3 separate regions of the Homo sapiens genome follow, and all the other regions are reported to be linked to region 3. Evidence: microRNA targets listed by miRTarBase, many of them from high-throughput screens and not tested one by one. Region 3 holds a microRNA gene; each other region holds the end of a gene's coding sequence.
What was found. Region 3 holds the annotated microRNA hsa-miR-548d-5p (AAAAGUAAUUGUGGUUUUUGCC, at 1,226-1,247, opposite strand). A microRNA usually pairs through its seed, bases 2 to 8, with sites in the 3' UTR of a target mRNA and lowers its output. Matches are read on the target gene's strand: a 7mer-m8 pairs with bases 2 to 8, a 7mer-A1 pairs with bases 2 to 7 and ends in A, and an 8mer does both.

Region 1: the mRNA of HOXA13 is a reported target of hsa-miR-548d-5p. Seed matches in the 3' UTR shown: 7mer-m8 at 1,240-1,246 and 7mer-A1 at 451-457.
Region 2: the mRNA of ABHD5 is a reported target of hsa-miR-548d-5p. Seed matches in the 3' UTR shown: 7mer-m8 at 1,911-1,917.

What each region holds. Positions count from the first base shown.
Region 1 is chr7:27,195,610-27,198,609 of GRCh38, forward strand. HOXA13 (homeobox A13) reads right to left here. Exons shown (of 2, transcript NM_000522.5): 2 at 1-2,833. The coding sequence ends at 2,589. Among named protein-coding and RNA genes, the nearest start is that of HOXA13, 3.0 kb to the right of the region's middle.
Region 2 is chr3:43,718,022-43,721,021 of GRCh38, reverse strand. It overlaps ABHD5 (abhydrolase domain containing 5, lysophosphatidic acid acyltransferase), which reads right to left. Exons shown (of 7, transcript NM_016006.6): 7 at 1-2,579. The coding sequence ends at 2,490. Among named protein-coding and RNA genes, the nearest start is that of ABHD5, 29 kb to the right of the region's middle.
Region 3 is chr17:67,470,315-67,473,466 of GRCh38, forward strand. MIR548D2 (microRNA 548d-2) reads right to left here and starts at 1,271; the gene lies at 1,175-1,271. All of the region lies in intron 1 of PITPNC1 (phosphatidylinositol transfer protein cytoplasmic 1), which reads left to right. MIR548AA2 (microRNA 548aa-2) reads left to right here and starts at 1,175; the gene lies at 1,175-1,271.

The DNA.
Region 1 (3,000 bases), not on the chromosome of region 3:
TTATCCTACAAATCAAATGGCAGATTCACAAGCATCAATATAAGATTGCACACCACCCTGGAGCAGTACTCAGCTCTGAGTTATCCAGGATAACTCTCGTTCTGTATCCAATCCTGTGGTCATTTTGTAGATATGAAATATTAAGTCCTCTTTACTGACCTCTCAAGAGGTGGGTTTCTTAGACTTTCTGAAACATAACTCTAGAACTCTAGACTTAGCAAGGCATCTGAATCTTAATTTGCTGTAAAGACTCCTCAATAGCTCTAATTACAGTGTGAGACCACCCTGGAGGGTGAGGACCAGGAAGGAATGGTGATTTAAGAACACATCTTAGACTGTAACAAAAATGTACAGCTTTAAAGCAGATCTGCAGAAATCTGATGCAGAGCAAGCCACTGTGAAGACAAATCAAATTTGGCCATTAGAGAAAAGGAACAAGGCTTCATCTTGTAAAGTACATTTTGTACCTCAATTCTAGAAATCACCTTAAATTACAATATCTTGCGTCATTAGCAATTAATGATATGATATCTGTACAGATTCTACAAATATATATACAAGCACACACAAGCACTAATATGCAAATGTATACATGTGTACACATATTATATATATTTACATATATACAGGGACATGTATAATTTACATATATTCAAATTTGCTCCAGCTGGAGCCAAATAATTGAGTACTGAATCTCTAAAGTCAAGGAGGTAAGAGCTCTTGATTCCCTTGGTTGAAGAATTACAAGGAGGCTTGTCAACGCGAGGTGGCGCCCTTGATCTACTAATCCAGCTAAGGCCAATTCATGAGCTGTCAAAAGTCAAGGTCACAAATTGTCTTTTTTTTCGTCAAGGTCAAGGTTTAAGGCCTTTCGTAGTCCTGTCATTTCAACAAATATCAAAACCTGCCCTCTCAGACACATGCAGACCCAACAGCAGATTTTAAAATACGACAGCCTAGGCATTGCTGCTACAAAACAACTGGTTTTCATTTTCCACAGGGAGCCTGGGAATTCATACTATCTCTTCCTCCTTTCTTTTCTCTCCCTTTTGTAATACCTGACACTTTAATCTCCTTGAAGCACTTATCATTTTTTAGGATTTTAGTTATGAGGGATTTCTCCCTTTTCTTAAAAATTTGGTAGCAAAAGAAGTACTGAATAATAATAAAGAATGGTCCTTGGTTTATATAAGATAAACCTGCTCCTTTTCTTTCTGTGCAGTGCACATTTAGCATAGGAAAGTAAAGAGTATTTTCTGCAGATTTTAATGGCAGTGACTATTTTATTAACAATTAATATTACGATATCACTATCTACAGGTCTAAGGGTTTTTTTTTTTCATTTTTAGTAGAAATATTTAAAAAGCAGGTGCACAAATACATTTTCACAGTGTGCTGAATGTCTTTATTTACAAGATATCATTCTATAGTGAATATGAACAAAACGAATGTGCTGGTTGAAATAACTGCTTGATTAAAAATGTGCTGTGAAGATGAATCACTAATCTTTCTAATGCACTCTGATAACACAATAAACATGGAAAAATACTAATCCCTTAATAGATCAAAATATAGAATATAGACACCTAAATATTTCAGGGGAATGAATTTTCATTCTGAGTTTTCTAAAAAAGAAAAAAGAAAAATGATTTCTCCAGCAAATGTTTAGCAAATATTGGGAAATGCCAATTCAAATGAAAAAACGAATTGTGTTCAAACCAAAGTCCATCATGTTGGGATGGAAACTCTCGGGAGATCTCACATAAAGTGAATTCTGTGGATCATCTGATGATGTAAACATTTTCAAAAAGATACAAAATCCTTTGGAAAATAACGGATATTGGAGCAGTAAATATAGTTCAAATGCCACAAAATATGCTTGTTATAAGCAATTAAAAATTATTCTTAAAAAGACATTACCGACCCGGGTTCTCTTGTAGCCTGAAAGGTTCAGCTGGTTGGTTTTACTATACTACCAAGACAAATGATCCTCAGAAGAGTTTTCTCTCCCTTTCTCCCTTCACAGCAAATATTCCAAGATCATTATTTCAGTACCTTCTCGTTTCCCCTCTAAATCTATACATAAAATGTTTTGCAGAACGTACAACAACGGTAGGAATTTCACTAAGATTTACCTGAGCAGACGCTTAACATGCAAAGGGAATGGCGACCTAAGAAGGACAAGCAGATGTTTACAATGGCCTCTTGCGTTTGTAACCAACTTCCAGATTATTACCATCTAACGCAGTGTCCTAAAATGTAACGATCACTTAAATACTTACAAGATTTCAGTAACTGCGTAACTTATCTGAAATTGCGTATTTTGGGGGTTGACGTTTGACATTTAACGGGCTGGGCTGATGGGGTTGGCGGAAGAACTGGCAGTCTTTACCTTTCTTAAAGTTTTAAAACAGTTGTAGATTCCATTAAAGAGAAAGAGATCTCCTTCGGGAGAGGAAAATGCCAGTCTCTGTCTCTTTCTCTTTCCCATTCTTCAATTATTATTAAGCATTATTATCATTATCTGGGCAAAGCAACGAGTTCTGAAGCGTTTCTTCAAGTTGCCTTCTTGCTCTATTTTTAATCCATTAACTAGTGGTTTTCAGTTTGTTGATGACTTTTTTCTCTTTAACCCTCCTGTTCTGGAACCAGATTGTGACCTGCCGCTCAGAGAGATTCGTCGTGGCTGATATCCGCCTCCGTTTGTCCTTAGTAATGAATTTATTCGTGGCGTATTCCCGTTCAAGTTCTTTTAATTGCACCTTGGTATAAGGCACGCGCTTCTTTCTCCCCCTCCTATAGGAGCTGGCATCCGAGGGATGGGAGACCACGTCTAGAAGACAAGGGAGAAGGCAAGTTACACAGGGATCGGACCCCAGCCAGGGCATAGGCGACAGCTCGATCTGAGCCACCCGCCTTGCAGCGCCCGGCTGCTCTTTGCCACCCGCTGTACAATCCTGTCTTCTGCTAAAGCCTAGAGGGTCAGTGGGGAAGGTAGTT
Region 2 (3,000 bases), not on the chromosome of region 3:
TATGGCCCTTTAAGTATAAATATATATTACATATATGAATGAAGACATTTCAAAAGTGTTCTGCAAATCATATTCTAAAACCAACCTTAGGCAAGGCTTTTTTTTTTTTGGAAAATCAGAAGAAAAAAGAAGAAAACAGAAGTCATCTTAAGGGAATGCATGGACCCAGGTAAAGCCATGTATGGCGGCCACAACACCCAGAGTAGCCTTCCCTAAGAACAACAGCAGCATTTACTGAACATTTGCTGGATCCACAGTCCTGTAGTTAACTATTATACAGAGACTGGTCCATACAAAAGACTCAAGAAACTATACAGCTGTCTTGTTGTGACTATCACAGGAAAATTTATTCTGTAAAATAAAAGTATGCTGTGCATAACAAAGATCAAATGCTGTACTAGATTTTTAAGAAAACATTTAGCACCCACTATATTTTTTTAAATGTGAGGATTGTGAACTTCCCTTCCAGCTCAATCTTCACAAAATTACATATACTATACCTCAGGGTAAAATCTAACTTTAAAAAGAGTTACAACATCTTTCAAATAAAGCAAATTCAGTCTGTAGGAAAATAAATTATCACTTGATATTGGGGTATATCTTTCTTCAATCACTTGGCACATCTGCGGCCAGAAACTCCATTCACTAAGTAAACGAAGGAACTTCTTCCTTCCAAGGGCTGGGACCAAATTTCCTGTGCAAAAACCTTCCTGTATAAGTGAAACCTGTCATTCTCCCAGCAAAGGATAATTGAGATTAGAGAGTGTGTAAAACAAAAATACAAAAATATTACCCAAATTATTTGTACCACATACAGGTTTGAAACCTGGCCATCCAAAATACTAACTAAAAAGACTATTATTGTTCTTAAGGTAGAGAAATCAGACAACACATCTTGGCGCTCATGTTGCTTCCTGCACTAACCTAGTTAATCTGACAAGTGAGACAAATTGTTCATTGGGAAGATGTTTATATCATGCTTCAGTATAATTTGTCTATTCTTTTATAGGGGAGAAATGTTGAAAATAGAACATTCAGTCTTTCTGGCAGTTAATCAACAGTGACACAACCTTACATTTCCTAACAACTACAAATTCCCTAATTAACCATTTTAAAAATGCAATAACAAAACCATTAAACCACTATTTGCTCTAGTTCACTGTTTTTATTTACATAGCTACCTTTCTCCTAGACAAGCAACGTTAGCGAAAGATGCCTTCTTGATGACAATCCTATTCAATTTTTATTTATTTTTTTGGTGAAGGGTTTTCTCAGCAGCCAGTTACCACATGGAGCATTTCACAGTTTCAAAGAAGTTTTCCTCATTTTAAAACTGCAAGAAAATGCTACACTTGATGGTAGTTCCTAAAAAAATAGTTCAATCAACCTTCTAGAATTTTTGTAATATAACTTCAAGTATGTAATGATTTAATTAACACAATACTCTTAATAAACAACAGCAACAACAAACCCAAGTGCTAGCTCATTTCTGGTGCCATGAGACATAATAGCACCACTTGTTTTTCTATTTTAGTGGTTAAAATGTATGCAATTTTAGCACCCATCTACAAAAGTTAGATGTTAATAAAAATATGGTATTACTTGGCTTACTAGGAAGTAACAGTCTTAATATCCCCTTAAGAGAAGAAATCTGTTTCATTTGCTGCATCCTGGGTCATGGAAAAGAATAGTATGAAAGGGGGAAACAAAGAACAGCCTTTTAGGTAAGGCTTTTCAGTACCTGAATCACTGAAAGTATTGAAGTCATGTTCCTTGGAAGAGTAGAATTATACCACACATAGGAGGTTCCAAGGAGTTATGTTGTTATACACTGTATGTCAGGATAGACCACATTTAAAATGCTGAACATGGCTTAGCAGCCTTAAATATAAAAAACAGGTAAACTAGAAAAAGTAATGATAGTGATCAACTCCCGTCCTCTAACCAAAAATCTGCCTTGTCACTCCGTTTCAAAAACAAAGTGAAATATTCTAAACAACTGACAAATTTTTACATAAAAACACATTGAATTTAGATTAATATCAGTTATCAAGACACAATAAATACATGATGGGGAAGACAAAGAAAATAAAGTGCACCTTTACAGTGTAAGAGACTCAGAAATCACTTCCTAAATTGGTAATATAGATTGCAATATAAAAATAACTAGCAAAGTTAGATTAAAAAATTTTCAGCTGAAAAATTACAGTTTTTCAGTACATCAGAGGGACAAATAACCTTTTATTTAAAGGTATTATATTTAGAGACTTGTATATTTCAATTTTGTGTAGGAGAAAGGAAAGCCATTCTTCTAGAAGGCACTAACTGGTTTAAATGTGTGAGTGAATTCCTAAAGAAAACATGTGCAAAGTATAGTCAAGAAGGCTGCCTGGTTGTGTGTTGTATTCACTACTCTTCATCACAGACTATGAATTATTGCTGAACAACTATATCAGTCACCAGGTTTTCCCATCAGAGCTTCAGTGTGTTCAGTCCACAGTGTCGCAGATCTCCTTTACTTTCTGGTTGAATTCTTCTGGTTGATCTGCATATACATAATGTCCTGCCCCAAGAATAGCCTGGATAAGGAAAAGCATTCAGACAGTTAGTGAGTAAAAGCATTTAATAAAACAGAATGATATATAAGCAAAGACACTTAGTAATAAAAGTGAGAGCCACTGTATTTAAATAAAACACGTGATTAAAAAATAACAATAATCTATAGTAACTATTAAGTATATCCATTAAAAGGATCTGAGAATAGAAAAATCTACTGAATCTCAATAAAATTTTAATATGCAAAAAACACTAAATTGACCACTAATAAAAGTGCCAACAGAGAAACTGAAAAAAGTGAGAGTGTGCTGCCTTGTGAGGTGGGAATTACTTGAAGTGCTACTGGACCAATCCCTCTGTCCATCTCTCCTAATGCTGTGGCTCTAGGGACAGGAAAAGTCATTCAGAAAGGTAGTTCACGGTTTGGACATGAAGATGTGTGCA
Region 3 (3,152 bases):
ACCACTGCCCCATCAAGATACAGAACATTTCATCACCCCTAGAACTTCCCTTGTGACTTTTAGCTGTCAATTACTTCTCTCTACCCCCCACATTCCCCACTCCTGTTCCTAACAAGCACTGATCTGCTTTTGCACTAAAGTCTTGCCTTTCTTAAAGTTTCCTATAGATGCAGTCATACAGATGTAGTCTCTTGTGTCTCACTTCTTTTGCTCAACACAATGTTTTTGAAATTCATCCATATTCCCCGTCCGGGAGGGAGGTGGGGGGGGTCAGCCCCCCTGCCCGGCCAGCCGCCCCGTCCGGGAGGTGAGGGGCACCTCTGCCCGGCCGCCCCTACTGGGAAGTGAGGAGCCCCTCTGCCCGGCCACCACCCCGTCTGGGAGGTGTACCCAACAGCTCATTGAGAACAGGCCAGGATGACAATGGCGGCTTTGTGGAATAGAAAGGCGGGAAAGGTGGGGAAAAGATTGAGAAATCGGATGGTTGCCGTGTCTGTGTAGAAAGAAGTAGACATGGGAGACTTTTCATTTTGTTCTGCACTAAGAAAAATTCCTCTGCCTTGGGATCCTGTTGATCTGTGACCTTACCCCCAACCCTGTGCTCTCTGAAACATGTGCTGTGTCCACTCAGGGTTAAATGGATTAAGGGCGGTGCAAGATGTGCTTTGTTAAACAGATGCTTGAAGGCAGCATGCTCGTTAAGAGTCATCACCAATCCCTAATCTCAAGTAATCAGGGACACAAACACTGCGGAAGGCCGCAGGGTCCTCTGCCTAGGAAAACCAGAGACCTTTGTTCACTTGTTTATCTGCTGACCTTCCCTCCACTATTGTCCCATGACCCTGCCAAATCCCCCTCTGTGAGAAACACCCAAGAATTATCAATAAAAAAATAAATTAAAAAAAAAATGTAAAAAAAAAAAATGTAAAAAAAAAAAAAAAAGAAATTCATCCATATTATTGGATGTATCAATAGTTTGTTCCTTTTTATTGCATAGTAGCATTCCCCTGAATGGATATACCACAGTCTGTTTATTCATTTACCAGTTGATGGACATTTGGGTTACTTCCAGTTTTGGATGATTTTGAGTAAAGTTGCAATGAACATTCACATACAAGTCCTTGTGTGGACCTACGTCTTCATTTGAGAGATTTTTTTCCTTTTAAACTTTTTATTTTATTAGGTTGGTGCAAAAGAAACTGTGGTTTTTGCCATTACTTTCAATGGCAAAAACCACAATTACTTTTGCACCAACCTAAATCTTCCCTCTCTCTGGATTTGCAATTATTCTGTAAATCTAAAGTTAACTTTAGCTAAATCAGGTTGACATCATATACCCCCTAAAGTTAACTTTAGATTTACAGAAGAGTTGCAAATCCAGAGAACCCCCCGTAGTCTTCATCCACCTTCCCCCAATGTTAATATCGTACTAATTATGATACATTTATCAAAACTCAAAAATTAACATGGGCACAGTTGTATTAACTAAACTCCCGACTTTCTTCAGATTTCACCAGTTTTTTCCACTAATGTCCTTTTTCTGTTCCAGGATTTAATCAGGATATAATGTTGCACTTAATTATTATATCATAATAGTCACTTTCAATCTATGTCAATTTCTCTGTCTCTCCTTGTTTTTTTATGACTTTGACATTTATGAAGTGGGCTGGTCAAGTATTTTGTAGGATGTCCCTCAATCTGGATTTGTCTGATGTTTTCTGATCATTAGACTGCAGTTGGGGTTTGGGGAAAGAATACCCCAGAGGTGAAATGGCCTTCTCATCACATAATATTAGGGGGCACATGATATCTACCTGATTGCTCACTGGTGAAGTTAACCTTGATCACTTGGTTAAGGCGTTGTCTACCAGAGTTACCCACCGTAAGCTGCTAATTTCCCTTTCCATACTCTGTTCCAGGGGTGTCCAATCTTTTGGCTGCCCTGGGACACATTGGAAGAAGAATTGTCTTGGGCAACACATAAAATACATCATTAACACTATGACAGCTGTTGAGCTAAAAAAAAAAAAAAAAAAAAAAAAAAAAAAAAGGACCGGGTGCGGTGGCTCACACCTGTAATCCCAACACTTTGGGAGGCCGAGGCGGGTGGGTCACGAGGTCAGGAGATCGAGACCATCCTGGCTAACACAGTGAAACCCCATCTCTACTAAAAATAGAAAAAATTAGCCGGGCGTGGTGGTGGGCGCCTGTAGTCCCAGCTACTCAGGAGGCTGAGGCAGGAGAATGGTGTGAATCCAGGAGGAGGAGTTTGCAGTAAGCCGAGATTGCACCACTGCACTCCAGCCTGGGTGACAGAGGGAAACTCTGTCTCAAAAGAAAAAAAAAAAAAAAGGTCTGTGCATAAATATCATAATGTTTTAAGAAAGTTTATGAATTTGTGTTGGGCCACATTCAAAGCTGTCCTGGGCCACGGGTTGGACAAGCTTACCGTCTATTCATTAGAAGTGAGTCACTCAGGGGAGGGAGATTAGGCCCTGCCTCCTACAGGGAGGGGTTTCAAAGAATTTGTGGACATATGCTAAAACCAGCACCATAATTAATGTGGTATTTTTTTTTTTTTGACGGAGTCTTGCTCTGTAGCCCAGGCTGGAGTGCAGTGGCCTGATCTCGGCTCACTGCAAGCTCTGCCTCTCAGGTTCATGCCATTCTCCTGCCTCAGCCTCCTGAGTAGCTGGGACTACAGGTGCGCACCACCATGCCCAACTAATTTTTTTGTATTTTTAGTAGAGAAGGGGTTTCACCATGTTAGCCAGGATGGTCGCGATCTCCTGACCTCGTGATCCACCCGCCTTGGCCTCCCAAAATGCTGGGAATACAGGTGTGAGCCACCGTGCCCGGCCAATTAATGTATTTTTATTATTTTAAAAGTTATTCTTATTTTTAGAGATAGAGTCTCACTATGTTGCCCATGCTGGTCTTGAACTCCTGGGCTCAAGCTGTCTACCCACCTCGGCCTCCTAAGTGCTGGGATTATAGGCGTGAGCCACTTTACCTGGCCTGCTTGTTTTTTTGAGACAGAGTCTCGCTCTGTCGCCCAGGCTGGAGTTCAGTGGCACAATCTCGGCTCACTGCAAGCTCCACCTCCTGGGTTCACGCCATTCTCCTGCCTCAGCCTCCCGAGTAGCTGGGAC